3 separate regions of the Homo sapiens genome follow, and all the other regions are linked to region 1. Evidence: fine-mapped expression QTL. A gene starts in region 1. Each other region holds a variant in brackets. All regions are shown on one strand. Distances are from middle to middle.

Region 1 (9,755 bases):
CACAGCACCATGGGCGGCGAGCCGGCCGCACACAGCTGGAGGGGGTCATGGTGCAGCCAAGGCAGCACCAGAGCTTTCCAAAGGGCTTGTGTAACCTCGGCGTCACCCGGGCAGGGATGTGTGCGTGCCTGCGGCGTCCCCTGGGAGCTGGGGCCCTAGCGGGTGTCTGGGTACTGCTGTGCGGGGTGGGATCACGGGGTCCTCACCTTTAACGAGTGCTGGCCCTGATGAGCAAGTCCAGAAAACTCACCCCAAAAGGGCTCTGGGAAAAAGTGGCGGTAACTGAGGCCGGGCTTTGCAGTCCAGGTTCCCAGCTGAATGTTTAGAAAACGCAGGGGAGGTTGTGCAGGTGCTTCTCTGATCCCAGCAGAAAGCTGTAAAATGCAAAGCTGATGGCAGAACTCAGCCTTCCAGCGCTGCAAAAGCGACTCTGGCCCCTGCCTGTGTCGGCTCTCATCAGGAGGGCTTCGAGCTGCTGCAGACTGAGGGTGAGCACACCAGATGCGGGGCCACAAAACGAGGCAGGGCCCTCCTTTCGGGAGCAGTCGTCTGTGCCCCTCCCTCTCCCCCAGAACATTCCTCTGGGGAGGTCTGGCTCTGGGTGCTCAGTGTGGGTTGTGAGCCCCTCCCGCCGGGAGGCTGATGTCAGCGCCAGCTCTGCCTCTCCCGCCAGCCGGCCCAGAAGTTCAGCGAGACACGCCCACACCTCCCACAGCCTTGGAAGAAGCCACCAGAAACAACCTTGGTACCTGCAAGGCTGCGGGGCCAGCACATTTGATGTTATGAGCACAGCTGTTTACTGTTGTCTGGGTCCCCCACACTGTCTGATTTTTAATGGGTTCCATTAGAAATGGGTGAGACCAGGCTCTCTGAGGCCTACGTCAGGTCCAGGCTTTCTCCTTCCTCCTGGACTCATTCGAATTTCCTGGCAAGAGGCATCCCCCGGTCTAGAAAGGGGAAACTTCCCAAGACCTTTCACGCCCAAGGACGGCTTTGGCGGCCTTCGCATTTGGCCAACAGCTCATCTGTGTCTGGCGAGGGCGCGAGTCTGGGTCACACCTGTTTTTGGAGAATCCCTGGCGCTGCTGCCAGGAAGACTCTTCTGCCGGGTCTGGATGGCTGCCAGGCCTGCCCACGATGTTCTCAGATTGCACTGAAACGTTTCCCAGTGTGGGATCTTCTTATCTCTCTGTTCAAGGGGCTGAGGCCCATGGACTCCCCCTCATGTAACCGCCCAATGGGTTCACCTTGCCTGCTGCCCAGACAGAGCTGATGGATCAAGACAGGGGAATTACAGGGGAGAAAGAATGACTCACGCAGAGCTGGCTGTGCAGGAGACCGGAGTTTTACTGTCACTCAAATCAGGGGAATCGCAATAGGGAAAGAGGGATTCACGCAGAGCTGGCTGTGTGGGAGACCGGAGTTTTATTATTACTGAAATCAGTCTCCCCACACATTTGGGATCAGTTCTTTTTTTCTTTTTTTGAGACAGAGTCTCACTCTATCCCCCAGGCTGGAGTGCAGTGGCGTGCTCTCAGCTCACTGCAAGCTCCGCCTCCCGGGTTCACGCCATTCTCCTGCCTCAGCCTCCCGAGTAGCTGGGACTTCAGGCACCTGCCACCATGACCGGCTAATGTTTTTGTGTGTATTTTTAGTAGAGACGGGGTTTCACCGTGTTAGCCAGGATGGTCTCGATCTCCTGACCTCGTGATCCACCCACCTCAGCCTTCTAAAGTGCTGGGACTACAGGCGTGAGCTACCGCGCCCGGCAGGGATCAGTTTTTAAGGACAGCTTAGTGGGTGAGGAAGCCAGTGAGCCAGGAGTGCTGATTGGTCAGGTCAGAGATGAACTCATAGGGAATTGAAGCTGTCCTTTTGTGCGGAGTCTGTTCCTGGTGGGGGTCACAAGATCAGATGAGCCAGTCTATTGGTCTGAGTGGTGCCAGCTGATCCATCTAGCGCAACAAGGATCCGCAAAACATCTCAAGCATGGATTTTAGGAGCAGTTTAGGGAGGGTCAGAATCTTGTAGCCTCCAGCTGCATGACTCCTAAACCACAATTTCTTTAATCTTGTGGCTAATTTGTTAATCCTACAAAGGCAGTCTAGCCCTCAGGCAAGAAGGAGGTTTATTTTAACTATAAACTAAGTTCCTCCCAAAGTTAGTTCAGCCTACGCCCAGGAAGGAACAAGGACAGCTTGGAGGTCAGAACCAAGATGGAGTCAGGTCGGAACCCTTCCACCAACGGTGATAATTTTGCAAACTTGGCTTCACTAGTTGCTTCGTTGCTCCATCTCGGGCTGGTAGGAACCCCTTCCCTGGCTGCCTCCCCAGCGAAGGCTGCACCCCCACCCCCGCAGGCCAGGCCCAGCTCACCCCAGCCTGCTCAGTGGCCCCTCGCAGTACGCTCCCCACCAGCCCCCCAGCCCATCCCCACGGCTCTGGGGTTTGAGCAGGACCCTCCGCGGCTCTGAGACAGAGCCAGCAAATCCCTGATCTCATGGTGTTGCTGGGGTCGGGGGCGGCATCCATGAGGGTTGGCCTCGTCTTCCAAACCCAGCTCTTTATGACGTCTGAGAGAGGATTGGCCACATCGTGTCCTGGGCTCTGCTTCCATTTCTGAAGGGCTGCGTGTCTGCCAGGTTGGGAGGTTTTGAGCCCATCTGGACCCTGGCATGGCCTTTCCCCCTGAGCCGACAGCAAACATTTGCCCAAGCTTCACGGGAAAGAAGTCACCTGTGGAGCAGGAACGAGAGCTGGCGGGGGGTGGGTGGGCTTCTGGGCAGCTTGGACTTCAGAGGAGATGCGAACCTTCCCTGTGTCTGCAACTCACGGGCGTCCGTGTGAGATTCTGAGTAACATTATGTGAGTTACACTTTGAGAGAAGGAAAGCCACACACGTGGTCTAAAAATCCTGGAGCCTCCTGAGTGAGGGGAAGAGTGTGTCGGACTCATCCACGGAATCTTCCAGAGGGAACTTGAGCGAAGACTCAGTGTCCGTGAATTACAGGACTGAGAGCTTTGTCGCTCAAGCTTGACCTTCTGTTGGCGTCACTTACAGTCTCAGACACAGATGGTCTGAGACGAGCTCTGTGGGAGGGGAGGCCCCTTCTATTCCCAGATTCAGCTCCATGGGATGTACCCCTGCCCAGCAGGCACAGGACCCGGGGGAGGCTCAGAACCCCACGTACCTGGCCACTGTGCAGACAGGCTCCCCAGCGCCAGGCCAGGCCCACCATCCACCAGGCCCAGAGGCCCCGCCCTGGGCAAGCCAGGGATCGGGGCGGGGGGCAGCTTGCGGTGCCTGCCTGGGAAGAGCCTGGCATTGTTTGCAGAACCCTTGGGACAGGGCTGCTTCTTCAGGGGAGATGCAGCCATGGGCCTGGGGCTGTGGCTGGGGTCTTCTGTCATCCCTGCCTACCACAGCTCCCTTCGAGCCCCCACAGGTGGTGGCGGATGTGGGGCTTTAGGGCCACCCTGGCCATGGGCAGAATTCTCGGCCCTGGTGGGACTCCTGGGCAGGGAGAGTGTGGGTCCCACAGGTGGCCGGAGACTCTGCTTCCTCCACTGATGTCCACATACCCCACCCTGCCAGGAGAGGCTCACCACGCTTAAAAAAAAAAAGGTTTGTTTTTTAAAAATCACTTTAGCCTTGGGTAACTGGGGCCTCCCTTCCCTCTCCTCCCTTCCCACCTCTTTCCTTTCCCTCCCCCTTCCCCCGATTCTCCTTCCTCCCCTCTCTCTTCTGCTCTGCCCTATTCGCTCTCTCCCCCACTCACCATGGGTGCTGGGCCAACAGGCAAGAACCTGGGTGGGTGCCCGGCCCTGCCAGGCAGAAGGCGGGTGGCTTTCTGGTGAGAAGGAGTGTGGGGCCTCCAGGGCCGGCCTCCTCCAGGTGTCCCCTTCCCTGGACACGGAGCTCTCCACGGACACTCTGCCTGCCAGCCCCACCTGCATCCTTCAGCCCTGGAGGTGCGCCCTGCCTGATACCCGACAGCAGGTTCCCAGCCCAGAAGGATGCAGATGGCGCACCAGGAGATGAGCCCCCCACCCTAACAGGAAAGCAGAAGTGGACTGGGGGGACCCGCGGACCTGGGGAGAAGCTCCGTGGGCAGAGGCACACAGATACCTGGAGGCAGCCTGCGTCTGGTGAGAGCCCTCCCAGGCCACAGCCCTGATTCCAAGCCGTGGGCACGAGCGGCCTCCTGGCTTGGAAGCTGGCATTGGGTGTCCGTCCTAATCCATTAGAAACTCCACCCCAGGGTGGCAGGCAGCAGGGACTGTTTCGAGAATCTACACACAGAATGTAACCACCATCGGCTACACTTTCGCACTAAATCCCAGGGTTCCCCTGGCTGTGCCCTGCACACGGCCAAGAGGCCATCGCAGATGACCAGGCTCACATCATAAGGATGCGAGATTGCATTTGAAGAGGCCCCCTGGGCAAAGCTGGACACCGATGCTTGGAAAGGGCACTAATGGTGATCGACTGAGACCCACCAATGTGTTTCATCAGCGATGTACAAATATACTTGGGAGATTGTCGGGAACCAATTCACCGTTGTGGAAACTGACAAATGAGGGAGAGGCACCCTTGCCCTGCCTTTCCTGTGGGCACCATTATCCAGATGGCCAGACGGACAAGATGAGCCTCTCCCTCCAGTGAATTCATGACGAAGCCACCACGCACTGGAAAATCACCATTTTGCTCCATGAATCTGTCGATTCAGACATCAAGCACCAACGACTGCGGACGGAGGAGCTACCACCAGACAGTGCGTGGCTCCCTCTGCGAGCCCCCGGCCTTGCCAGGGGACTGGACCCGGATCCCAGCAGTCCCCTGGCTCCAGGTGCCCACTTCCAGGAGACGCAGAGGCCTGCACCGAAAGATGCAGCTCCAACCCAGGCCTCGGGTACCTCCACGTGTCCGAGGGCCACTTCCTACAACAGGTGCCGGGTACAGAAAAGGACAGAGGGATGGAGGTGGGTAGGAAGAGAGCACTGAAAGTCACACAACGCACATTTAACCCCAGGCTGCCGTGTGGGAGGATATACGTGGACACGGAAACCCACAGAGCGAAGGGAGGGGCCACCAGACCCCTAGGGATGGGCTACTGATGGGATGGGAGGGGCCTGCAGCGGCTTCTGGGCTCCGGCAAGGGTCTCTGTCTTGACCCGCAGGTGCTTACAGGGTGCTGATCCCTGTCGTGACTCACCTGATTAGAATGCAAAAGGCAGCAGACCTCACCCCCCACCCGAGGTCTCCCACAAGTAAGATCTAAGATTTAAACAAGAGAAGCCACCTGCCTTCTGCCTGGCAGGGCTGGGCACCCACCCAGGTGCTTCAGCCATGGCCCCTGGTCCTAGTCAAGATTTTGTAATCACAGAGAAGACCACCCTCGGAGCTGCCACAGGACCCTAAACTCCTGGGCCTCAGTTTCCTCCTCTGTAAAATGAAGCTGATGAGTCCTGAGTCCGGGAGCTGGCCCTGGCCACAGACCCTCCAAACCAGCTCCTCTGAAGGTCCACAGCCAGCACATGGCGGGCAGCCGGCCCTGGGGTCCTGGGGTGTGAAGCAGAGCTTGGATGTGCGACGGGAGCCCTGCACATCTGTTGCTCCTGCTGGCATCACTTGGGAAGGCCTCGTGCCCACCCTGAGCTCTGTCCAACCCTCGGGAATAGCGCTGGGTGGCAACCAGGGTTGAATGTACAGAAGCCCCTGCTGGGGTGACTGAGGAGAGGGTTTACCCAGCACCCTAAGTGTGAACCCTATAATTGACCCCATTGGGCACTTCTGTTCCCACCCCCTGGATCTTTTTAGCAAAGCCAGCCCTCCTCATAAGGATGCCTGGGAACTATTTTATCTTCTGGGGAGGTGATGGTTTCCTACCTTCCAACCCACTGACCCAGGGAGGCAGCTGACCTAGCACCATCCACAGCCCTGAGCTCCCTTTGGTGGGAGGTGGGGTGAGAGTGTGGAGCAGGCACAGCTCCAGACACCCAGGCCAGAGGAACCCCCACCTCTGCAAGGGCTGGTGCTGGATGGGCGACGTTCCAGGAGGGTCCCAGGCCTACAGCTTCTGCCCAGAAGAGTCCATGGGGCAAAGGGGTAGAACCCTAGGCCACCCCAGGGCATGACTGGCTTTACTGGAAATGGCTGGAGAGGTTGGGCTTGCGTTCCTTGAACCCACAGAGCCCGGTGATCCCACAGCCCGGAGGCCATCACTCCCCTCCAGCTGCCTTTTAGGATTAGACAGGCAAGCGGCTAAAACATGGCCAGGCCATACCCATTTTCCACGTGACAAGAGGCTGTGGCCGTGTTTGCCCACACCACCTGTGTTTCTGCTTTGTTGTCGTACAGCAGTTGTGGGTGATTAGGAATAAAGGCTGACTCATTGCACCTGTGTGCCATAGCATTTTAGCCCAATTCCCCATTGACGGACATCTGATTGTTCCGTTTTTCATGAGTCATTTGTTGAGAAATGTGCCAGGTGCTGGCCGGTGGTATCCTGGTGTCTGCCTGGTGGGTTCTGGAACTCCACCTTCCCTGCATCACCCTGTGAGCTTCTGGAACATTTCCCAAGGAGGGAAGGGAGGGTTCTAGGGCAGGGGCCGCGGGGCACTCCTGGGGCAGGTGTGGAGGAGACTGGGGTCTTCGTGGGTGGTATTTGTCATGGGTGGGGGGGGGGACTCCCTCTACTGGGTTAGGTCCCTAAACTGGAGCTGGACCAAGCTCCGGAGTACCCCACCCCCAGGCTATCCAAGGCTCCTTCCACTGGAGTTGCCTTTGCAGCCAGGTTGGGCTAGCCAGGAGCCAGGCTAGGAGCCCAGGGTCTGAGCGGGTGTTGACAGCCTGGAGTGGGTGGGCGGACTGTGTGGGAGGTGGGTGCTGGAGGATGGCAGGGGGGAACAGGAGGGGGAAGAAGGAGGGGTAGGGGGCTGGAGCAGGAAATGGGGGGCAAACAGGAGGGGGTGCGGGAGGGGGCGCAGAAGGAGGAGGGGCCCAGCAGGAGGGGGTGCAGAAAGGGCAGGGGTTCCAGCAGGAGGGGGTTCATAGGGGCAGGGGGGCCCAGCAGGAGGGGGTGCAGGAAGGGTGGGGGGGTGCAGGAGGGGTGAGGGGTTCCAGCAGAAGGGCGTGCAGGAGGGGCAGGGGGCTGGAGCAGGAGTGGGGGGTCGGGGAAGGGGACAAGAGGGGAGGCGGGGAGGGGGCCGGGGAGGGCGGGGAGGGCGGGGAGTTCCAGCAGGAGGGGCAGGGGGCTGGAGCAGGAGGGGGTGCAGGAGACTGAGCGGGGATTCGCGGGCTCTGCGATGGTCGGGAGCGCAGGCAGCGAAAGCCCCGCGTCCCGGGTCGCGGCGGTCAGACAGACGCAGCCTGGGTTGGGGTCCCTGCAGGAAGTCGCCGCGGGCCAACTTTTCGTGGGGCCGCGGGGCAAGCAGGTGAAGTCACGTGGCCCGGGCGGGGCGGGGCGGCTCGGTCGGACCCCGCCCCTGCCTCCAAGTCCCGTGGCGTCGGCGGGAGCGGCGCAGCGCGGGCCGGGCCGGGACGGGGACTGTCGGCTGCAGGCGGCCATGCCCACCAACTTCACCGTGGTGCCCGTGGAGGCTCACGCCGACGGCGGCGGGGACGAGACTGCCGAGCGGACGGAGGCTCCGGGCACCCCCGAGGGCCCCGAGCCCGAGCGCCCCAGCCCGGGTGAGCGCGGCCGCACCTGGCCGGACAAAGGCCGAGCGCCCCGAGCGCGGGTCTGGGCCCGGCATCCGGGAGCGGAGGCGGGCGGCGGGGCCGGGGGTACAGGAGGCGCCCCTTCCCGCGCCCCCACCGCCTGTTCTCGGTCCCCCACGAGGGCCCCCACCCCACGTTAGTGGCAGCGCTAGGGGGCGAGGGGCCCTGCCAGGGCTCCCGGTACGGTCAGCTCGGGTGGGACCGGGGGCAGAGGTGTGGACGCCGCTGCTGGTAGCCATGGAAACGGGGAGGGGCTGGAGCGCGCCTCCGGAGGGAGCCCGGGCCCCTGGGTGGTCCCTAGTGGGACAGGGGTGGCGGTGGAGACCCGGGCGGTTCGGGAGCCGGGGCGTCCTGCGTCCCCCGCGCTCTCCCTTCCCCTGCGCCGCGGCCGTCCGGTAACACTAGCCCGGGCCGGCCCGTCCTGCCCCCGCCTGACCCTGGAGGAGCCGCCCACCCCCCAGAGGCGGAACAGGAAGGACTGCGCCCTGGCTGGGGAGGGGGCAGCCACCGGGGCCTTGCTCAGGCCGCGTCCTCCGTGTTCCCGTCCCCCGTTCCGGGAATCTGGAGGTTTCTAGCACTTTCACTTTCTCTAGGGGGTGGGGACGGGGCTGGGGAGAGAATCCCCCAGCCCTGTTCCCTCCATCCTGGCTCCAAATCCCAGTTACTCCCCGGATCTCAGCCCCCTCTAGAAACCGGAGGCTCTTAGGCCCTTCCATCCGGAGTCTCTGAGAAGGTGTCCGGACTCAGTCCAGCCCCCACCCCGCGTGCTGGCAGTGCCCGCATGTGCCCGGGTCTCATGCAGTGGGTGGCAGCCTCCCTGCTCCCTGGCAGTGGAAGGAAGGTGAGGTCTGTCCAGGGACAAGTCCGGTGCCAGACCCCAGATCCTTCCTAACCCACCATCCCGGGCAGGAAAGGCCAGACATCCCCTCCAGGCAGTTTAGGAACCCGGAGACACGGGTGGGGACCCACCGTGAAGGCAGTGGCCTGGTGGCCTGGGGTGCGTCATCAGGGTCCCCGTGGCGGGCGAAGAGTGGTCTCAGCTTCCTCTGCACAGAGGCCAGCCCAGATCTTGGAAGTGGTCAGGCGGGGCGCCAGGCTCAACACCAGGTGAAGTGCTAACTAAGCAGGGTCCGTGAGTCCAAGCCCCTTCTCTCCAGTCACCACCGTGGAGGCAGGAAGCACCAAGGAGTGTGGGCCCTGGCGTGGTCTTTCTGTGTGAGCTTTGTAGCAACGCCCCCGGAACGCACTCAGAAGGAGCCTCTTCTTGTCTGGCCGGCCCCTTCTCAAGGCTGATCAGGTTCACTTTTGTCTTTAGACTGTAAGTGTCATTTGCTTTTAAGCCAGAGAGAATTTTGTGCTTGTTCGTTTTCTTGTCTCTTCTACTCTCAAGGCTGTTGAGCAGTGCCCTGGGCCTGTGTCTGCCCAGCAGGAAGTGGCCCTGGCTGAGCGCTGCCCATGTCGCTGCCCGCGCACTCAGGTCCTGCTACGGGCGTGTCAGGAGGCTCCCTGGCCTTCATGAAATTGAGAACGGGAGGGCATGGGCCAGGTGTGGGCTTCTGGACACTTTTGAGGGTGGCCCTGTGGTGTGAGCTGAACTTGGGAGATTTCTCCGAACTGGCAGAGAACTTGCACCTGGCGCTTTTGTGCTGGACCCGCTTCCTACTTCCACAGAAAGGGCCCGGTGCCCAGCCACTGCCAGGCTGTAACGGGCACGCAGCTGCCCTTCGGAATCCACTTGATCACATCCTGATCTTCAGCCCACAGAGGTGCGGCGAGGAGTCCCGTGATGGGCACGGAGCCTGGGGAAGGAGGCACAGGCTTTGCTTTTTGGTGGTGGTTGGGGGCGGGGGTCCTGCAGAAGCCGGAGCCCCTCCCAAAGGCCTTCTGTGTGGGGTCCACACCACAAGGTCACAGGCCAGGTCCAAAACTGTCCGGCCACAGAGTTACCAGCACCCAAGCTCTTCCTGACTCCATTGCCGTTCCCCTGAACGGTCTGTGGAGGTACTGGAGCTTCTGGGCTGGCGCCTGGGTG
Region 2 (9,755 bases), 46 kb before region 1:
TTCTTCATCAGAAGGATGGTGCGGCCAGCCTGGGAGGAGGGGCTGCCTGGGTGGAGGCTTCTGCATGGCTGTTCAAAGTGCGGCTGTGCTGGCTGCCCAGTGCCTCCTGTCTCAAGGCACAACTCTCAGGTGGACGGAGGACAGAGGCCCTGGAAACCATGGGCCCGGCTTGTCCCCACCCTGGTGCTACAGCTTCAACTCATGGACAAGAGCTCCTGCCAGTCCCCGGGCCCGCAGAGTCTCAGCTTCCTTCCTCCTTGCTCAGTGTCTGCGCTTGTGTCTGGAAAGGGCGTGAAGCAGAGGTTGTGACATTGGCCCCAGACACTCCCTCCGAGAGCCCTGTGCCCTCCCTGACCTTCATGGGCCTCTCGTCTGGGAGACACAATGTTATCTGATTGAGGAGGACTCCCCACTCCGCATCACTGCCCTCCTCCCACAGAGACACAGGGTGTCCTGCAGGGAGAAAAAGGGCCCAGCCGACTGGCTCTGCACGAAAAGTACCCTCTGGAGACGGATTTATCCGTGTGCTGGCTGTTCATGCAGCTAGAACATGTGGTCTCTGAGGCCAGCACGGGGAGCGCAAGGGACACGGGGAGCTCAAGGGACACGGGGCCACACTCCCCCCAGCGCTGGTGGCTTCATTTCAGCAAATTAGGAGCAAAAGCTTCTCAGTCAATCAGGGTGGGCCCCTGGAGGAGGTGGTGGGGTCACAAAGGTGGAGCAGCTGGCTGTGTGTGTCGGTATTTCTGTGTGTGTGTCGGTGTGTGTGTCTCCATATCTGTGTGTCTGTGTATGTCTGTGTGTATCTGTGTCTATTTCTGTGTGTATCTGTGTGTGTCTCCATATTTGTGTGTCTCCATCTGTGTCTCTGTGTATCTGCATGTCTGTGTGTATTTCTGTGTATATCTCTGTGTGTGTTTATCTGTGTGCATCTGTGTCTATGTTTGTGTGTGCACAGATCCACACTGTGAGATGAGAGTCCAGGGTGCTATGTGTCTGGTCCTGGTGGCCCAAGGGGGGCACCTGATGTCCCTGTGGATGTGACTTCCCCGGGCCTGAGTCTGTCCCCCAGTCTTTCGGACTCCCATGACCCTCAAGTGAGCCCACACCATCCTTCCCACCCACTGCCGCTTACCAGGCTGAATCCTTGGTGGGCCACAGCCCCCACCACCCGCGTGCAGCAGTGCCCAGGCCACTCACGAGGGAGACAGAGCTCACGGGCATCTGCAACCCCCTGCACTTGAGGGTCACAGGCTCCTCCTTGGGAGGCACCTCAGCGGGGCTTGGGCCAGCGTACCCCGAGCGCCTCTCGCTGGAACAGGCTGAGGCAGCCTAGAAACCCAACCTCGATGGGGAGCCCGGGGCCCACAGGGCCGCAGGATCAGGTCGCAGTGCTGGGCCAGGCCATGGGTCAGATCGCCAAGTTTCCATGTTTGCAAGTTTCAAGTGGGGCAGGTCTCACCGTGGGGAGGGGCCCGTGGGCAAGGACTGGCCCAGTGACCTTTTGGCATCAGGCAGGGCTGCAGGCCAGGAAGGCAGGCCAGGCCCACCATGGGGGTTTCTGAGCACCCTGACCCTGGGGGTACCCCAAGACTGATCTTTCAGCCCAAATCCAGGAGACCCATCTGGGATGTCACCCCTGACCCCACAGCACTGGGCACAGCTGCTCAATGAGCCAAGGTAAGAACCAGGACCATGTGCCCCTGATTGGCTACTGGAACTGGGCCGTGGACCCCACGACTGTGGTTCAGTGTCCCCATACCCCTGCCACGGCCCAGGGGAGACCACCACCCTGACCAGACCACCTTGCCTGCTCCACAGAAAAACGCGTCCAGAAATGTTACGGTTCCCTCAACCCTCAGCCCGTGACCGGCCCCCACACCTGGCTAGCCAGACCCTTGTATCGCACCTAAACTGAGCGCTGCAGGGGCCGGCCCTGGAGATGGCTCAGACCTCTGCCCCCAGGAAGTCCCCAAGGGGCAGGAGCACAGCCACCCTCCCAGTGGGGAGCCCCAGAGCTTACTGCAGAGCACAGGAGTGGGAATGGGAGGTTATAGAGACACTCTGAGGCCACCGAGAGCCCCTCCAGCACTCAAGGCCTTCCTGGCGCCCAGCCCAGCACCAAGCTGACAGCTCCAGCCGCTCACCGGCTTGCTGGGCCTAAATTCCCCTCCTCTTCTTCCTAGCAAGGTGACCGACGGCTGTGGCCCTTGGTTTGCTCCTCTATAAAATGGGGACAGCCATGGCCTCTCCCCCAGTGCTGCCATGGGAAGAAAAGAAGTTCTTACAATAAGCCCTTAGCTGCCTCCTGACAGGTGGCAAACACACCCCTTGTGCTGAGCTCATTGTTAAAGAAAGAAAGAAACAGATATCAAAAAGAAAAGAGTCTAGTGACAGGAGGGAATGTTTCGGAGGGAAGAAAAATCATTGAATCCGGCCAGTCAAAAGCCAAGTTTCTTCCTCAAGAAAAGCAGAAGTTGCCTTCGTTGGCATCCTCACTAGGCTGGGGCAGGCGCCAGCTCTCAGCCCCTGTCCCTGAACAGAACCTGCTGCCAGGTGGAGGCTGCACCCAAAAGCCAGGCCCCTGAACGTCTGGATGTTACGTTTCCGCTCTGTTCAGAGTCCCCTAGAGCCCAAATTCTACCCTAGGCCCAACCCTGTGCACATCACCCACCCTTTGCACGTCACCCACCCTGCAAAATCCCAAGGGCAGCCGCACCTTAGACACGGATTCCTTAGTCTGAGAGAGGACACACCCACCCCCCACCCCCAGGGCCTCGAAGGGCATCCTCAGATGCAGGAGGCACATGACAAATGCAGGGGTGACTAGGGGAGGGTGGCTTGGTTTCTGCTGCCCGGGAGCTTCCTCTCATCCTGTTCCAGTGGGTGGCCGCGTGGCCAGTGCTGGGTCAGCTGCCTGTCCCGTCACGGGACCCCTCGGGGTCACGGTGGCCTCAGGAGGACTGGCCGTAGGAACATGGCGAGGACACATCCTCGGGCCACGGGCAGCTGGCTTTGCTGACGTGGGGTGGGCGGCTGGCCGGCCACCAACCAGTGAGTGGGCAGGGGTCTCGGCCAGAGTGAGCGCTGGAATGGGGCTGGAGGAAGGTTCTAGAAGCAGAGAGGGTACTGGAAGAAAATGAACTCTGCTTTGGGTCATCTGCAGACCCCGGGAAGCTCCTGCTGTGGCCTTGCGTGCACAGAAAGCTGGGAGCCCCTGTGTCCGCACGGTGAGGGCGCCCCAGCTGGATGCACCTTCTGGAGCAGTGGGGATGCAGGATCCTCCCCCTCGGCTTCTGTTGTGACTTGCTCCCTGGCTGCTGTCCAGTAGCCGGGCACATGTCCAGCACCCTCCGTCGCTGGGCACTGCACATCCCAGCCACAGCCTCACCCCAACCCCTCCCGTAGCTCCTCCCTCGGCTGGGGGCCAGCAACACAAGGCCGGGCTGCCCAGCTTAGCCTGAACGTGACCTCCGTGGACGGGCAACGGCTGGGGCCCTGGAGCAGCTCCTACTCCTATAGGTCTGCCGCAGGTCCCCCACTGGCCTGGCCCTGGTGAGGGTGATCCCAGACCTGGCTGAGGGTCGGCAGATGCCCGGCCCTGCGGCGGCCGCCCCCAGCAAGGGGCTGTGCCCTGTAGCTGCGCCTTTCCTTAGGTAGCGCTGTCTCCACGGCACCCTCAACCCTGGGCCTTTGTCTCCAGGAAACGCCACTGAGCTAGCTGCTCACAAAGGGCAAATCGTGGACCAACAGACCACGCGGGAGTAGAGAGCTGAATGGGACACTTTATTTCAGCAGGCGAAGTAGCACCTTTGCAAACAAGCTGCAGAGCACCAAGGGGGAGTTTCAGGAAGCGCCTGGGCTGGAGGACACAGTGGGTGTGCACCTGGCAGCTGGAGTTACAAAGCGAGCCTGTTGTCTCTCCCACCACAGAACCTGCCCAGAGGGAGGGCCCAGCCCACAGAACCAGGGAGCAGTCTCACGCCCAGCACCGTGGGCCATGGAACAGGCTGCGGGGAGGGAGCTGGGCCACCTTCGCCTGGTCCTGGAAGTCAGGAACAAGAGCAGCATTCACAGAGGACAGGGTGTGCAGAGAATTCCCCTGCGCTGAGTCATCTCAACCTTGAGCCCGTCCTGGGGCGGAGGCACCATTGTTCTCCCAACTTCGGATGTGAGGAGGCTGAGGCCCTGGGAGGATTTACCTCGGCAAGGGGGTGCAGGACAAGTGCATCAGTCTGCTGTTGGGTCAGTAACACTGCGTAACAAGTCGAGCTGCAGTTACTTATCCCTGCTCACTGTCAGGGCCAGCTGGTCTAGGCTTATCGGCCCTTCTGGGCCGTGCTCTGGGCTGAGACCTCTCTCCAGGTCTCTCACCCTCCAGGGGCCGGCAGCCTTACCTGGGATGTGTTTCTTTTCTTTTCTTCTTTTTTTTTTGAGACGGAGTCTCGCTCTGTCACCCAGGCTGGAGTGCAGTGGCGCAATCTCGGCTCACTGCAAGCTCTGCCTCCTGGGTTCACGCCATTCTCCTGGCTCAGCCTCCTGAGTAGCTGGGACTACAGGTGCCCGCCACCACGCCCGGCTAATTTTTTGTATTTTTGGTAGAGGCGGGGTTTCACTGTTTTAGCCAGGATGGTCTCGATCTCCTGACCTTGTGATCCGCCCGCCTCGGCCTCCCAAAGTGCTGGGATTACAGGCGTGAGCCATCGCGCCTGGCCCCTGGGGTGTGTTTCTTACAGTGACAGCAGAGGCCAAGCCCAGCCTGCTTGAAATCCATTATTGATCCACTGTTGATCCAGAGCAGAGCATGCTTGTGTCCTCGGAGGGGTGGAGGGGGAAGAGAGCAGGTGTTTGCTGAACAATAATCCAAGTACCCCCCATGATCTCGAGGCAGAGGGAATGGAACCCAGCCCCCAGCAGCAGTGTCGCTGTGGCGCTGTGGTGGCACCCTGCCTGCTCTCCCACCACCCTTCAGCAGCTCCTCTCCAAAGTCTGCCCCTCCAGGACCCCGTCACGGGGTAGGGGGAGGAGGCGTCCCATCGTCCAACGTACAGTTCAGTAAATGGTGGGGAGAAAGGGTTAACATCCTCTCTCCTGCCCCTTGCCTCC[A/CA]CCCATCTCTGTCTCTCTCTCTCTCTCTCCCTTCCTGTCTCTCTCTGTCTCTCCCTCCCTCTCTCTGTCTCTGTCTTTCTGTCTCTATCACTCATCCTGTGTCTTCTCTCTGTCTGTTTTTCTCCCTCCCTCTCTCTGTCCCTCCCTCTCTCTGTCTCCATCTTTCTCTGTCTCTATCACTCTCCCTGTCTCTCTCCCTCCCTCTCTGTGTCTCTCTCTCCCTCTCTTTCTCTGTCTCTGTCTCTGCTCCCCACTGCACTTCCATCACTCCTCACTCCCAAAGGCTCTCCCGTTCCCTGGTCACCTACCTTGTTGAGGCTCCCCCAGGAGGGCCTCCAGGTCTGTGGTGAGACCCCAGGGATCTGACAGCAGGTGGGAGTGAAGTCATGGGAGCCCAGGTGCGGGTGACCCCTGGAGGTGACCCCTGAGTCCCTCTGACCTGGCTGCAGAATGAAGGCGGAGGTGCCTGCATGGGGCCAGACCACCCTCCTGGCCCTTGCAGTCAGTCCCCCACAGAACTTGCAGGAAAAGTGGCGAGTCTTACTGTTTGCAGATCAGACCTCAATTTTGCAAACTGACAACTGAAAAAATTAGGGGCTATAAGTAGGTTGTTAGTCAAAGAGATTAAAGTTGTCATTACAAACAGTGGAAAACAATGACACCAAGAGGCCAAGGCTGTTTTCAGGGGAAACTGTATAAGCTTCACTGTTTTCTCCATTTAGCAAGATAAACAAAAAGCATGAAGGAGTACTCAGATCAAGATGGGAGGAAAAACCGTCTTGAAACAAGAAAGTGATAGAAGCAGAATTTAAGACCTGGAGAGGAGGATAAAGCAGGAACAGCGGTTAGCCTGTGCTCAGCCTCCTGATGTCTGCAGCCATCTCCCCACTGAGGGACGCGCGTGGCCGGTGCACCTCTCCCCTGTCCTCAGCCACTCGGCGTCCACAGCCCTTGTCCTTCTTCCCATCCACTGCTCAACGTGGAGAACTTACGGGAGCCAGGCGGCATTTTTCTGTCTTTAGCATTTCATAAAAGAACCTGGATTCTTACAACCTTTCTCTCCTGCGGAGGCGTCAGACGATCAGAGCCCGTTGGGCCTCCTGTGTCTCCAGTCCTGTCTTCGGGAGGCATTCACCACAGTCCTCCCGGGACACATGCAGCCACTGTCCACGGGAGGCCAAGGTGGGCAGTGGCCGCAGTGAGCCCCATCGTTCAGGCTGACTCAGCATGGCTAGAGGCTTCTAAGGGGCTCCAGGGCCTCCCAAATTTCTGGCAGCCTCAAACCCAGGGACAGGGTGGGCAGAGGGTGTGGCTGAATGGCAGATATTGGGGCATTTGGAAATGAAAGCTGGGGACAGGCTGCCTTTGGGGCAGGAGTCCGGAGGAGCTCTCACTTGAGGAGCCTGAACAGGGGAGGCGGAAGGCCGGGAGGTGAGAGGATCTGAGTTGTGGGACCTCCTTCCTCCTCAAGTCCGTCCCAAGCCGCCTCCGGGTCTCAGGGGAGGCGTCCAGGGTCGGCCTCATGGGGTAGAGCAAGAGGCAGCACTTCAACTCCCCAGGCGGCACAGTGCTTCCCGGAGACACCAGAACCACCCTCACTTGGGTCCAGGCCACACACTCAGTTCCACCAGCAACACAGCCCTGGATATCGCCCTGGAATTTCTAGGAAATTCCAAAACAAGAACAAAGGGGTGAAAAGAAAACAGAAGAGGTAAAAATGACAAAAAAGGACAACGATATCATTACTTACAGGTTAAAAAAATTCCTTGCACGCCGGGTGCGGTGGCTCACGCCTGTAACCCCAGCACTTTGGGAGGCCGAGGTGGGCAGATCACTTGAGGTCAGGAGTTCGAGACAAGCCTGGCCACCATGGCAAAACCCCATCTCTACTAAAATACAAAAATTAGCCGGGCGTGGTTCGCACCTGTAATCTCAGCTACTCGGGAGGCTGAGGCAGCAGAATTGCTTGAACCTGGGAGTTGGAGGTTGCAGTGAGCCAAAATCGCACCACTGCACTCCAGCCTGGGTGACTGAGCAAGACTCAGTCTCCAAAACAAAACAAAACAGAACAAAAATTCCTTGCAAAATGCGAGAGGTTGAACTGGAAATGTATTTGAATAATAGGATTTAGAGTTCTGCAAGGTAGAAGATTACAAAAGAAACACACAACAGCCAAAGGTGTTTCATCCTGTTTTTACATGTCAGTCCAGTAGTGACAAGAATGTGAATACACACACATAAATTAATGGAAAAAATGTGCAGGACCTGGGTGAAAATATTTGACACCATAAAGATGTCAGTTCTCAGCAAATTTATTTATACATTTAGTGACTTTTCAACCAAATCAGAAATGTATTTGGGGGGAACGTCCAAAAATGATTCAAAAGTTCATCTTGGAAAAAGGTGTGGGGAGGTGGGAACAGGTGTGAGAAGGTTGAGCAGGTGGGAAGAGGTGTGGACAGATGTCAGCAGGTGTGAGCCAGTGTGGGCAGGTGTGGGCAGGTGGGAACAGGTGTGAGTAGATGTGAGCAGGCTGGAACAGGTGTGGACAGATGTGTGCAGGTGTGAGCCAGTGTGGGCAGGTGTGAGCAGATGAGAACAGGTGTGAGCAGGTGTGGGCAGGTGGCACAGGAGTGAGTAGGTGTGGGCAGGCTGGAACAGGTGTGGACAGATGTGTGAAGGTGTGAGCCAGTGTGGGCAGGTGTGAGCAGATGGGAACAGGTGTGGGCAGGTGGGAACAGGTGTGAGTAGATGTGAGCAGGCTGGAACAGGTGTGGACAGATGTGTGCAGGTGTGAGCCAGCGTGGGCAGGTGGCACAGGGGTGAGTAGGTGTGAGCAGGCTGGAACAGGTGTGGACAGATGTGAGCAGGTGTGAGCCAGTGTGGGCAGGTGGGAACAGGTGTGAGTAGATGTGAGCAGGCTGGAACAGGTGTGGACATATGTGTGCAGGTATGAGCCAGTGTGGGCAGGTGTGAGCAGATGGGAACAGGTGTGGGCAGGTGGCACAGGGGTGAGTAGGTGTGAGTGGGCTGGAACAGCTGTGGACAGATGTCAGCAGGTGTGAGCCAGTGTGGGCAGGTGTGAGCAGGCATGCCTGCCGGTGCCACATGAGTGGAGGTGGGGCGATGGTGAGAGGATGTGCTGAAGAAAGGAGTTCTCATCCTCCCTGGTCTTTCCACTGGTGTTAGCTGTGCCCTTGAGACCCAGCCTCTGGTGATTTCTTATCCATAGCACCACAGACATGGGTGAGGCGTGTTTCTCAGCCTTCTGCACACGAAGGTGTGGCCACAGGACTAAGTTCTGGCTAACAGGATAAGCGAAGGTGCTATGTGCACTCCTAGGCTTCCTAGGCTGTGCTCTGCGAAGGAGTGGCTAGCTACCTTTCCCGTTTCCTCACTCTACTGCTGGGATTCAGATGTGATGGCTGGACCAGCAGCAGCCACCGTGGACGACGAGGGCAGAGTATGACTGGAGGCAGCACAGCTGACCACTTGCTCCCTGTAAGTCACTGTCTAGATGTCACCTGAGGCCCTCCCCACACCTCAGAGCTCTTACCCTTGCCTCCCTCTAGAACCTACACTTCACGGAGGCAGGGGTTCCCTTCTGTCACCTGCAGGGCCCGGCACAGGTTAGCATTCATAAATATTTATTGAATCTGTGAATACATATTGTAAAGTGCTCAATACTTCCACGCAAGGTGGTGGCAACAGCATCATTAGAGGGGAGGAAAGAGCCAGTTGCAGAATTTGTGCAGCTGCGGTGGTTGCAGGAACCCCTGAAGAGCAGGCGGGGTCTCCCAAGACTTCTAGGGTCCGCGGCTCCCAGCGCCTCCGCAGCCAGGCTGGCCTCCGCCTTCCACCCTGGCTGCCCCGGAGGCCTTTCTCCCCAGGTGGAAGTCCCAGGAGGAGGCCTCTGCCTCGCACGCAGGCACGGCTGAACCCTGCTTGGCCAAGGGCTGGAGTCTGGGGATGGGGGAGGTGGAGGCCCCAGATCAGGGCGCCCCTCCCCACGGACCCAAAGGCCAGCGAGACCTCCACCCTCACCGGCCCCCTGGTCCCGGCCCTCGGTGGGCGTCGCCAGAGACCGCGGGCTGCAGCGTTGCTGCCAGGGTTGGTCGTCGTCGGTTCCAGGCGGCGCAGAGCGAGGTCTGTTCCTCCCCTCAGGCTTCTGCACCGCGCGCTGACCCGGTCGCCCGGCTGGGGCGTCTCCAAGGTCACGCAGCGAGAGCCGAGGCCGCTCTTCGTTCTTCGGGGGCCGAGGCCGTGGTCCCCCCGCGGGCAGGGACCGCTGCCGAGGTGTCAGCCGGAGTCCGCCTCGCCCTCCCGGCCCCTCCCCGCGCCGCGCGGCCCCATCCCCGGCGGTGCGCTCGGTCCCTCTCTCCCCCCCGGCCTCCCTCCCTTCCTCCCGGCCTCCCGCGCCCGCCCCGCCGGCCCCGCCCTCCCCGCGCTCAGGTCCCCGCTCCCCGCAGCCGTCGCGGACACCATGTCCCAGCGCTTCGTGGTGACCCCCGCGGCGGGGGGTGCGGGGCCCGGGGCCAAGGAAGGCGACAGCCAGCGCCCCACCCCGAGCCCCCGCCGGGCCCCCGACCCCGGCCTGGACCCCGCAGCCGCGCCCGAGCCGCCTGACGAGGACCCGCTTCCCATTCTGC
Region 3 (9,755 bases), 28 kb after region 1:
GTGTGGAACTGGGCATTGCCGGGCTCAGCACTCAGCACCTTTCTGCACGTGGACGCTGCGGAACTGGGTATTGCCGTGCCGCACGTGGACGCCGCGGAATTGGGTGGTGGTGTGCCGGGCTCAGCACTCAGTACCTTTCCGCACGTGGACGCTGTGGAACTGGGTATTGCCGGGCTCAGCACTCAGCACCTTTCTGGGGTTTCACGCATGCTGGGCACTACCTTGAGGCCTCATGGGCTCAGGCTGGTACTCTGGCACCAAAACTCAGGAGCCACAGGCCTTCCCTGTCTGTCCGCCTGTGTGCTGGAGTTTGTGTCCTAGGGAGATGTTGGCTTTCTCCAGGGAGCAGGTGTCTTCCCACGGGCCTGGTCCGAGTGCTCCGGGAACAGGCTTTAGCTCCAGCTCGGCTGGGCTCAGGCACCACTGGCCTGGACATCCAGCTCCAACCCCTCTGCCTGATGGAGCCCAGCCTGCCATGAGGTGCCCATAGAGAGCACACCCCAGCTTCTCTCACCCTACTTGGTACTGAGACATGACTGAAACGTCCAGGCAGGTGTGTTTGTTCATGGCACACTGTGGGCCAGGGCCCAGGAGGTTCCCACCTGGAAGGCTCTCCCTGGCCCTCCCTGGCAACCCTACCCCCAGGCTGGTGGCTCTCAGGCCTCTGTCCCTCAGGGACAATATGCAGGTACCCCAGGCTGATGCTGCCTGCGTTTCAGTCGTGGAGGGACCAGGGCCCGTGACCCCAGCAGGCCTGTTGTTTGACGGTGGCGGGTTTCAGTTGGCAGTGACTCCTTCGGCTCCCTTAGGGGACCGTGGCTCGGCCCCTGGGGTGGAAGGGCAGGGGCCGCCCCTGGTCCTCTTTGCCAGGCTCAGAGGCTCATCCCCAGCAGACCTGCTCCCATTGAGGAGCCTTTTCAAGGGCCCAGGCATCTCCAGCCTCCCGCGCCTGAAATTGGGTCAGGTTGAGCCTTAAAAGTTGCCTTTAGGCGCGAACCAAGAGGCCAAGGCCGGCCATGCCCTTCCGTGAGGAGTCAGGATCCCCCGCCTTTGGCCGAGAACCAGCTTCTGACTCGCCTGTCACGGGGCTGCGGGATTTGAGGCTGAGCCTGGAGGGCAGGGGCCCCTGTGTGGACCGCGTCTCTGCCTGGAGCTCTGCCTGTCGGCTCCTGCGTTAGCTGAAGCCTCGCTGGGAAGTCACAGCAACAATTGTCCCTGGAGCCTTGCTGTCACCTCTGCCCTGGGCTCTCAGTTTTATCCAATGAGAATGTCCCAAAGCCGGTTCTCCACCATCCGCCACCGCTTCTCTCGTTTGCACCAAGAACAAAGCATACCCAGATTTGGAGGGCCCAGCAGCGGCCCCCAGCCCCGTCACCCTCTCCTCTCCAGGGCCCCCGTCAGAAGCAAGTCGCTCCCCTGTTGCTTCCCACCTAGGGCTCAGGGAACCAAGTGAATCCCCCAGGCTCTCAGATCCAGGGCTTCCCACGCTCCGAGCTGCTCTTACATTATTTTTCCCAGGGTCCTAAAGTTGGTGGAGCCCTAGAGCCCTGCCCTGGCCCCAGCCTTGGCCAGTCTGTGGGAGGCGTTCCGGCACGGTGACCCCAGAAGCCACCCTGTTTGCTTTTGTGATGTGGTGTTCAGCGTGCTCTCCCTGGGAGCTGCCCCTCACCTGGTCCCCTGTTCCCATCCTCCCCAGGCCTGGGCTGTGTGAACCCCAGGATCGAAGCCCCGCACGGGGCCTGTTCTGATCCACATTGTGGCCACTGTTCACAGGAAGTGTCTTCAAATAAAACCTTCCCCCTTTTCCGTATTGACCTTGAGACGTTTTCCTGTTAAAACGTCACCTTGTGCTGGCACCAGCCGTCCTCCAGGTCTGAGCCACGTGCCTCTGCTCATGGCGGGAGTGGGGCTGAGCAGGCAGTGGGGATGGAGCTGAAACTTCTACCCCAGCCTGGCCCGTCCCGAGTGGAGCTGGGGAGCTGCCTGGCAGGCGCTGGCCTGCTCCTGGCTGTGCTGCTGACCCTTGCCCATGTGGGTTTTCTCAGGGCACAGGGTGTGTCCCCCTCTCTGGCACAGGTGTCTGAAGCAGGCTGCCTGCTCCGTGCTGGGGCAGGCGGGGTGGCCCCCACGTGGATATCTGAACCTTTGCTGTTATCTCGTGGTGACCTCCGTGCCCGGTTAAGATGTGTCAGTTTCTGCCCAGGGCCGACGCTGAGCTGTGGATTTTTTTTTTTTTTTTTTTTAGCTTTATGGGCAGCAGCCGTCTCATCCCTCCGCTGGCTCTGCTTCCATTCCTGAAGTCTCAGGCTCTCCCAGGGTGTCAGATCTCAGGCCCTGAGCCATCCAGGGAACGGAGCCGGGGGCCCTCTCGTTCTCCCTCTTGTTTTTTCCATAACTTTTCCAGTGTAACAGGTTTCCCTCCGTCGGGGAGGCACAGCGGAGCAGCTGCATCTTGGTTCTCTGCCAACCATGTGGTTCTGCTCCCCTCCCCTAAGCCCTCATTCCGGGATGGTCAGGGGTCCTGTCCTGGGCCTCTCTCTGAACCTCCATCTGTTCTGGGAAGGACTCCTGCCCCCTCCTGCCCCCACGGCCGCTTTGCCTGCCCAGGGCCTGAGTGCAGCCTGGGGAGGGGGCTCCCTCTGGGTGTGGGGTACGAGCCCCTGGGACACGCTATGCTCTGTCGCAGGCTCCGCGCATGGGCACCTTCATCGGCGTCTACCTGCCGTGCCTGCAGAACATCCTGGGCGTCATCCTCTTCCTGCGCCTGACGTGGATCGTGGGGGTGGCTGGTGTCCTGGAGTCCTTCCTCATCGTGGCCATGTGCTGCACATGTGTGAGTCTCCCCCGGCCAGGTGTGGCTGTGCCTTCGGGCGGTGGCAGCTGGACAGTAGGGCTCTCCCCAGATGCCGTCTCCCCTGGCCGCTGTGGTTGTGCCTTCGGGCGGTGGCAGCCGGACAGTAGGGCCCTCCCCAGACGCCCGTGTAGACGTCGTTCAGCGCCGTCTCCTCCACGAGAGCCGGGCAGCTGCGGGGATGAGATGCCACACTGTCCGGGGTTAGTGCTGGCGTGTTGACTGGCGTGCTGGCACCTCATTTACCCGTGTCTGCGGACAGGCATCTCAGCCAGTGGTGGGTGTCATGGGGCGGCACCCGGGGGCTGAGGCTTCCAAGGGAAGGGACACCCTGTGTTTTGATGACATCACCTCCAGTTTGGAAGGACCTTGGGCACTTTCAGGGGTCGCTGTCATAGGGGAAGGGGTGGGAACCAGGACACGCATGCCTGGTGCCCGGGAGCCTCCAGGTCCTGTTTCCTAGCCACTCCATTGAGATGGAGAGCCCTGGAGTTGGGGGCTGGCATTCGGCGGGAGCCGGGTCATAGACCCTGACTTGGGAGTGTTGCGATGCCGGCAGGCTGTTGGAAAACTCTCCTCAGATGGCTGCCTGTCTTTTTGCAGACAATGCTGACCGCCATTTCCATGAGTGCGATCGCTACCAACGGTGTGGTCCCAGGTAAGGGGTGCCCGCCAGCCGCGGCCCTGAGTCCTGTTAGAGGAGTCTGTGTTTTGCCGCACGGCAACCGCGAGGAGGCCGCTTGGCGAGGCCGGGCCGGGGGCTGCCTGGGGGTCTCAGCCGGGCCTTCTGCGTGTTCTCCACTGGCTCCTCTGGCGTTTGAGCCGTGAGGTCACGGCTGTTTGGTTTTCTTCCCCATTTTGCTGCGTGGTGACCGTCTCTTGCCAGGGTAGGCAGTGCCCACCAGGCAGCGGGCTGGGGAGGGGGAGGCACGGGCGATTCCAGTGGCTCCTGTAGCCCAGCGTGTGCCATAGGCTGAGTTCTTGGAACCTGTATCTCACGAGGGAAGGTGAAGACAAAACACTGCCCTGACCTTGTTAATTAGTAATAAGTTAATTACAATACATAATAACTAAATAACTAGTGAACCGAGATGATATTAATTAGTAATAAGTTAATTACAATACGTAATAACTAGTAAACTGAGATGATACTGTTAATTAGTAATAAACGAATTACGATACGAAATAACTAGTGAACGGAGACGCTGCCACGTCTGCTTCTGAGTGCATGTGTGCTGCGCGTGTTAACGGCTGGGCTTGCTCAGCACCAGGTCCTCACGCAGCTGGTCCCCATCCCCACGGGGGCATCGCTTGGTGCTCAGCGGACTTCCCCGGCCTCAGGAGAGCACGAGGGCCTTCACCAGGGGTCTCCCTCCGCAGCCAAGGGACCAGTCTCTGCTTCACGATGGCCGCGTCCATTAGGACCCCTTCCACATGCCACACGCACTGCTCAGAGCAGGGAGAGCTGTGTTCTCCAGGCAGCCCTGGGGTTGCGCCCGGCTTTCCCGCCAGTGATAGCGTGCGTGGTTCACAGTACACGAGACGACTCCTGAACATCCTAGTTTCTCTTTTGCCTTTTTCATAAGCAAAACTTAGTGGAAGTGGGGGCTGGGGCTGCCACTGATGTACGCGGGACTTTTTCTGGGACCTGCTGGGGCCTCCTGCTCCCCAGAGAGCCTTATCCCTGATCTCACCTGGTCCTCATGTCCATGAGAGCGCGTGCTCTTGGTGTGGAACGTGTGCCGAGCCTCGGGAGGGGAGAGTTCACCGTGGAAGCGTCTCCATGTGCTGCTTTGCGGGTGGACGAGGGTCTACACGCTGCCTTCGCAGAGACAGGCCCTCCTTTGCCCGTGAATGGCAGCGCAGACCGCACCTCGGGTCCGAGTCCAAGTGCGCCCCTGACCCGCGGCTGCCGCCTTTGTCTCCGCAGCTGGCGGGTCCTACTACATGATATCGCGCTCGCTGGGACCCGAGTTTGGAGGCGCTGTCGGCCTCTGCTTCTACCTGGGCACGACGTTTGCAGGGGCCATGTATATTTTGGGGACCATCGAGATTTTTCTGGTAAGTGTGCTGCTTTGGAAGGGTTCCCACCCCACAGTCTGTGGCAGGATGCCAAGGGGCCCTGCCTGACCCACTCTGTGGCACACACAGCACACTGAGCCATCCTGACCCCACTGCCCTGGCTGCCCCTGGGCTCTCCTGGGCTCTGGCCATGGCGGAAGCCACTGGGCAGCGTCCACTCAGCAGCGACCTGTGTCCCCCTTGAGCACCATTGCTGCCCTCCGTGAGGCGTGCCTGGCATGAGCTGGGTAGACATCTGGACTGTAGATCTGAGCCCCGCGTAGGTGCAGTCCTGCAGTCGGAGCTGTTTTAGGAGCAGGGCTGGAACTCGGCTTAGAAGAACCTTTTGCCAGGATCCCAGCCTCTTCTCTGCCTGATCTGGGCACTTGGCCGAGGGTCCCAGAGCCCAGCAATGTACAACCAGGTGATGTCATCACCTTCTCAAAACAGGCATGCTCAAAGCATGTCCCACATCACCTGAGCACAGCTGAGAGCTGTGGCCTGAGTTCCTTGGTCCTCGTGGGGACGGGAACCGCCCTTCTCTGGCCGACGGGTGCTGTCCTTCCTGCTGAGGTTCTGAAACCCGCTGTCCCTGCAGGGCTTCAGAGACGCTCACCTGAGCCCCTGTCCCCAGTCTTTCTGCCCCTCCCTCTGCTGCCAGACCTGGTTCCTGGCCTCCTGGGTTCCTGAAGAGAGCCACATGGCCAAGAAGGTTCTGAAACCTTTCAGTGGGGTCGCACCCACACCCGTCCCAACCCGAGTCCCCTGGCCATGTCCCTCCATCTTTCCACCTGCCCCGGGTGCCGTGGCTGCCGCACTCCCAGGATCCCCTTTGGTGGGGGTGGGTGCCATGCCCTCCATGCCTGCTGCACCCCAGTCCTGTCCTGGTCTTGAGGGAGCTGAGCAGCACTGTCTCACGTCTCCGTCCCTTCCCTTGAATCTGGGCAGAACAGAGGTTGCCCCCCGCCGGCGTGGTCAGACCCTGTGTGTGTCCAGGACGTCCAGCCGGGGTGGGCCGAGCTCTCTGGGCAGCAGTCACATTCCTCTTAGCAGAAGGTGTTTCTTTTGAGTGCGGACATGCGGATGCCCCGGGTCCTGAAGTTGCTTTACTCTAAGGCTCCCGGGTGGTTCCTGGGAAACGTTCAGGCCCCTGGCTGTCCATGGCCTGTGCGCTGACCCCCGCGGGCTCCGTCCCTCGCCTGTGCGCTGACCCCCGCGGGCTCCGTCCCTCGCCTGTGCGCTGACCCCCGCGGGCTCCGTCCCTTGCCTGTGCGCTGACCCCCGCGGGCTCCGTCCAGCACGGATGCGTCCCGATGGCCCCGGCACCTGTTGGGAGGAGGCCCCTGTGTGGCGCTGGGGGCTTGCGGGAGGGACGGGCACTGGGGAGTTGTGTCCGGGGACGGCCTCCCGACC[G/T]GCCTTGTTCCCACAGACGTACATCTCCCCGGGTGCGGCCATCTTCCAGGCGGAGGCTGCAGGTGGCGAGGCGGCCGCCATGCTGCACAACATGCGTGTGTACGGCACGTGCACGCTCGTGCTCATGGCCCTGGTGGTCTTCGTGGGCGTCAAGTATGTCAACAAGCTGGCGCTGGTCTTCCTGGCCTGCGTCGTGCTGTCCATCCTGGCCATCTATGCCGGCGTCATCAAGTCTGCCTTCGACCCCCCGGACATCCCGTGAGTCTCGGGGCCTCTGAGCCGTGGGTGGGTGTGGGGCTGGGGCCAGGTCCCATGGGCTCTGCCCGCCTCTCGTCCATCATCCTTGACGCCGAGCTCCCCGCAAGGGGTGGGCTGGGTGTGACCGTGGCGGGAACCCCCGTGGGCTCGTTCTGGGGATTACAGGAAACCCAACGGTGAGGTGGGCCGAGGTACCCTCGTGGCCGGGTCTGAGCATGAAGACCCTCCTCAGTGGCAGGAGGGCTGGTGAGGGGTCTGGCAGGTTTCAGGGGTGGCCGGTGGCCCTGAGCACGGTCAGGTGCAGTGAGCGTCATGGGTGTGGCCCTGGCTGCTGCTGGGGCCTGGGTGTCTTCTCCCTCCCAGAGGTGCTTGGAGGGGCTCTTTTCTTGTCCTTTTGGAGGAGCAGCTGGGAGGCGGCCCAGGGTCCTGGAACATGGGAGTGGCCACCAGAGCCCGCAGGGAGCAGGTCCAGAAAGGGCCAGCAGCCAAGCCCCTTGAGGCTCCCGCGGTTTTGCCGTCTCTGCGTGGAGGGAGCCCCTGAAGGAACAGCCTCATAGAGGCCTCAAAACAGAGGGAGGCAGAACAGCTGCAACCCCACAAGCCCGTTTTAGGGAAGCACAGCTGCCCTCCCCCTCGGGGACCCGTCCTGAGACCCCCTGCCGATGCTTGACGCTACGGCCCTGTGTAGACTGTTTTCCACGTACAGGCCTGGCTTATACGTCGGGGGCGGCACTCCTGTGCTCTTGGCCGTTGGCACGTGGCACGAGGGTGGCTTGAACTCAGACACTGAGATTGTGACAGCTGACCCGGCCAGGACGCCGCCGAGGGCCTCGGGGAGGGAGCGGCTGCAGCGTGGCTGTGCTGGCGCGGGGGGAGGTTGCTGGGTTCCACCTCACTACTCGGCACCGCGCGGTGGAAAACGTGTGAATTGTTTACGTCTAGAACGCTTCATTTAGCACGTTTGGACCACGGGTGGCCGAACCATGGATGAGGGGACGGCTGTACAGTACAGCGTTCCTGCTGCAGCCTGGCCTGGTCCCCGGTCCCTGGTCCCCAGTCCCCGGTCCCCAGTGTGATCCCTGGCCCTTGCATTCCTGCTGCAGCCTGGCCTGGGCCCGGTCCCTGGCGTGATCTGTGGCCTTCCTGTCTTGGGAGGTGCAGGGTGCCAGGAGCCACTCGCGGGCGACACCATGGGTGCCCGTTGGGGGAGCTGGGTGGGGCAGTAAAAGCCACTTCGGTGGCAGCACACGTGCCGTGCCTCCCTGTCCCGCCCAGGGTCTGCCTCCTGGGGAACCGCACGCTGTCACGGCGCAGCTTCGATGCCTGCGTCAAGGCCTACGGCATCCACAACAACTCAGCCACCTCCGCGCTCTGGGGCCTCTTCTGCAACGGCTCCCAGCCCAGCGCCGCCTGTGACGAGTACTTCATCCAGAACAACGTCACCGAAATCCAGGGCATCCCGGGCGCGGCCAGTGGTGTCTTCCTGGGTGAGGCTCACAGGGCTGCAGCTGGAGCTGGGGGGTGGCGGGGGCAGCAGGCGCTGGCCCTGGTGGCTGCTCTCGCCTTAGAGTCACTCTCAGGGCCCCAATTCCTCCTGCCTGGCCGAGCCCCTTCCCAGCTGCTGCTGATGAGCCTGGGGGTCCCTGTACACACCCCTGGCAGAGCCATAGAAGCCAAACACGGTGTGGCAGGGAGACAGCCTCCGTCATGGTCAGCAAGCTGGTCTTAATGCTATGGATTTATTTTCATGACCTCCTGGCAGCATGTATGGGGAACTTGCTGTGTTAAGAAGGGAGTGGTAGCTGGGCGGTAACTTCCCCCTCTGTGTATCCTTCTCTGATGAGAGGCTGCCTCGGACCTGCCCCAGGGGGTTGAGGGAAAAGGACCCCTGGCAGGGTACACGAGACCTGCTCCAGAACCCGAGACGGGAAGCCCGGACTTTCCAGAACCCGAGACGGGAAGCCCAGGCTTTCCAGAACCCAAGACAGGAAGCCCAGGCTTTCCAGAGCCCTAGAGAGGAAGCCCAGGCTTTCCAGAACCCTAGAGAGGAAGCCCGGACTTTCCAGAACCCGAGACGGGAAGCCTGGACTTCCCAGAACCCGAGATGGGGAAGCCCGGACTTTCCAGAACCCTAGAGAGGAAGCCCAGGCTTTCCAGAACCCAAGACGGGAAGCCTGGACTTTCCAGAACCTGAGACGGGAAGCCCAGGCTTTCCAGAACCTGAGATGGGAAGCCCGGACTTTCCAGAACCCTAGAGAGGAAGCCCAGGCTTTCCAGAACCCGAGACGGGAAGCCCAGGCTTTCCAGAACCCGAGACGGGAAGCCCAGGCTTTCCAGAACCCGAGACGGGAAGCCTGGACTTTCCAGAACCCGAGACGGGAAGCCCAGGCTTTCCAGAACCCAAGACGGGAAGCCTGGACTTTCCAGAACCTGAGACGGGAAGCCCAGGCTTTCCAGAACCCAAGACGGGAAGCCTGGACTTTCCAGAACCTGAGATGGGAAGCCCAGGCTTTCCAGAACCCGAGATGGGAAGCCCGGACTTTCCAGAACCCTAGAGAGGAAGCCCAGGCTTTCCAGAACCCGAGACGGGGAAGCCCGGACTTTCCAGAACCCTAGAGAGGAAGCCCAGGCTTTCCAGAACCCTAGAGAGGAAGCCCGGACTTTCCAGAACCCGAGACAGGAAGCCCGGACTTTCCAGAACCTGAGACGGGAAGCCCGGACTTCCCCAGAACCCGAGACGGGGAAGCCCGGACTTTCCAGAACCCTAGAGAGGAAGCCCAGGCTTTCCAGAACCCAAGATGGGAAGCCCAGGCTTTCCAGAACCCGAGACGGGAAGCCTGGACTTTCCAGAACCCGAGACGGGAAGCCTGGACTTTCCAGAACCCGAGACGGGAAGCCCGGACTTTCCAGAACCCTAGAGAGGAAGCCCAGGCTTTCCAGAACCCGAGACGGGGAAGCCCGGACTTTCCAGAACCCTAGAGAGGAAGCCCAGGCTTTCCAGAACCCTAGAGAGGAAGCCCGGACTTTCCAGAACCCGAGACGGGAAGCCCGGACTTTCCAGAACCTGAGACGGGAAGCCCGGACTTCCCCAGAACCCGAGACGGGGAAGCCCGGACTTTCCAGAACCCTAGAGAGGAAGCCCAGGCTTTCCAGAACCCAAGATGGGAAGCCC

The links. PIP is the estimated chance that this variant, and not a neighbour inherited with it, causes the effect.
Region 2: its variant is fine-mapped to the expression of SLC12A7 in whole blood (INTERVAL, PIP 0.94).
Region 3: its variant is fine-mapped to the expression of SLC12A7 in whole blood (TOPMed, PIP above 0.99).

The regions. Positions count from the first base shown.
Region 1 is chr5:1,109,806-1,119,560 of GRCh38, reverse strand. SLC12A7 (solute carrier family 12 member 7) reads left to right here and starts at 7,498. Exons shown (of 24, transcript NM_006598.3): 1 at 7,498-7,693. The coding sequence starts at 7,570. RefSeq lists enhancers at 8-541, 1,612-2,145.
Region 2 is chr5:1,155,701-1,165,455 of GRCh38, reverse strand. It overlaps a transcript of SLC12A7 not described here. Among named protein-coding and RNA genes, the nearest start is that of TERLR1, 18 kb to the left of the region's middle. The variant A/CA (reference allele first, on the strand shown) is at 5,107.
Region 3 is chr5:1,082,060-1,091,814 of GRCh38, reverse strand. It overlaps SLC12A7 (solute carrier family 12 member 7), which reads left to right. Exons shown (of 24, transcript NM_006598.3): 4 at 2,687-2,833; 5 at 3,455-3,509; 6 at 4,782-4,912; 7 at 6,342-6,583; 8 at 7,859-8,070. Among named protein-coding and RNA genes, the nearest start is that of MIR4635, 24 kb to the right of the region's middle. The variant G/T (reference allele first, on the strand shown) is at 6,326.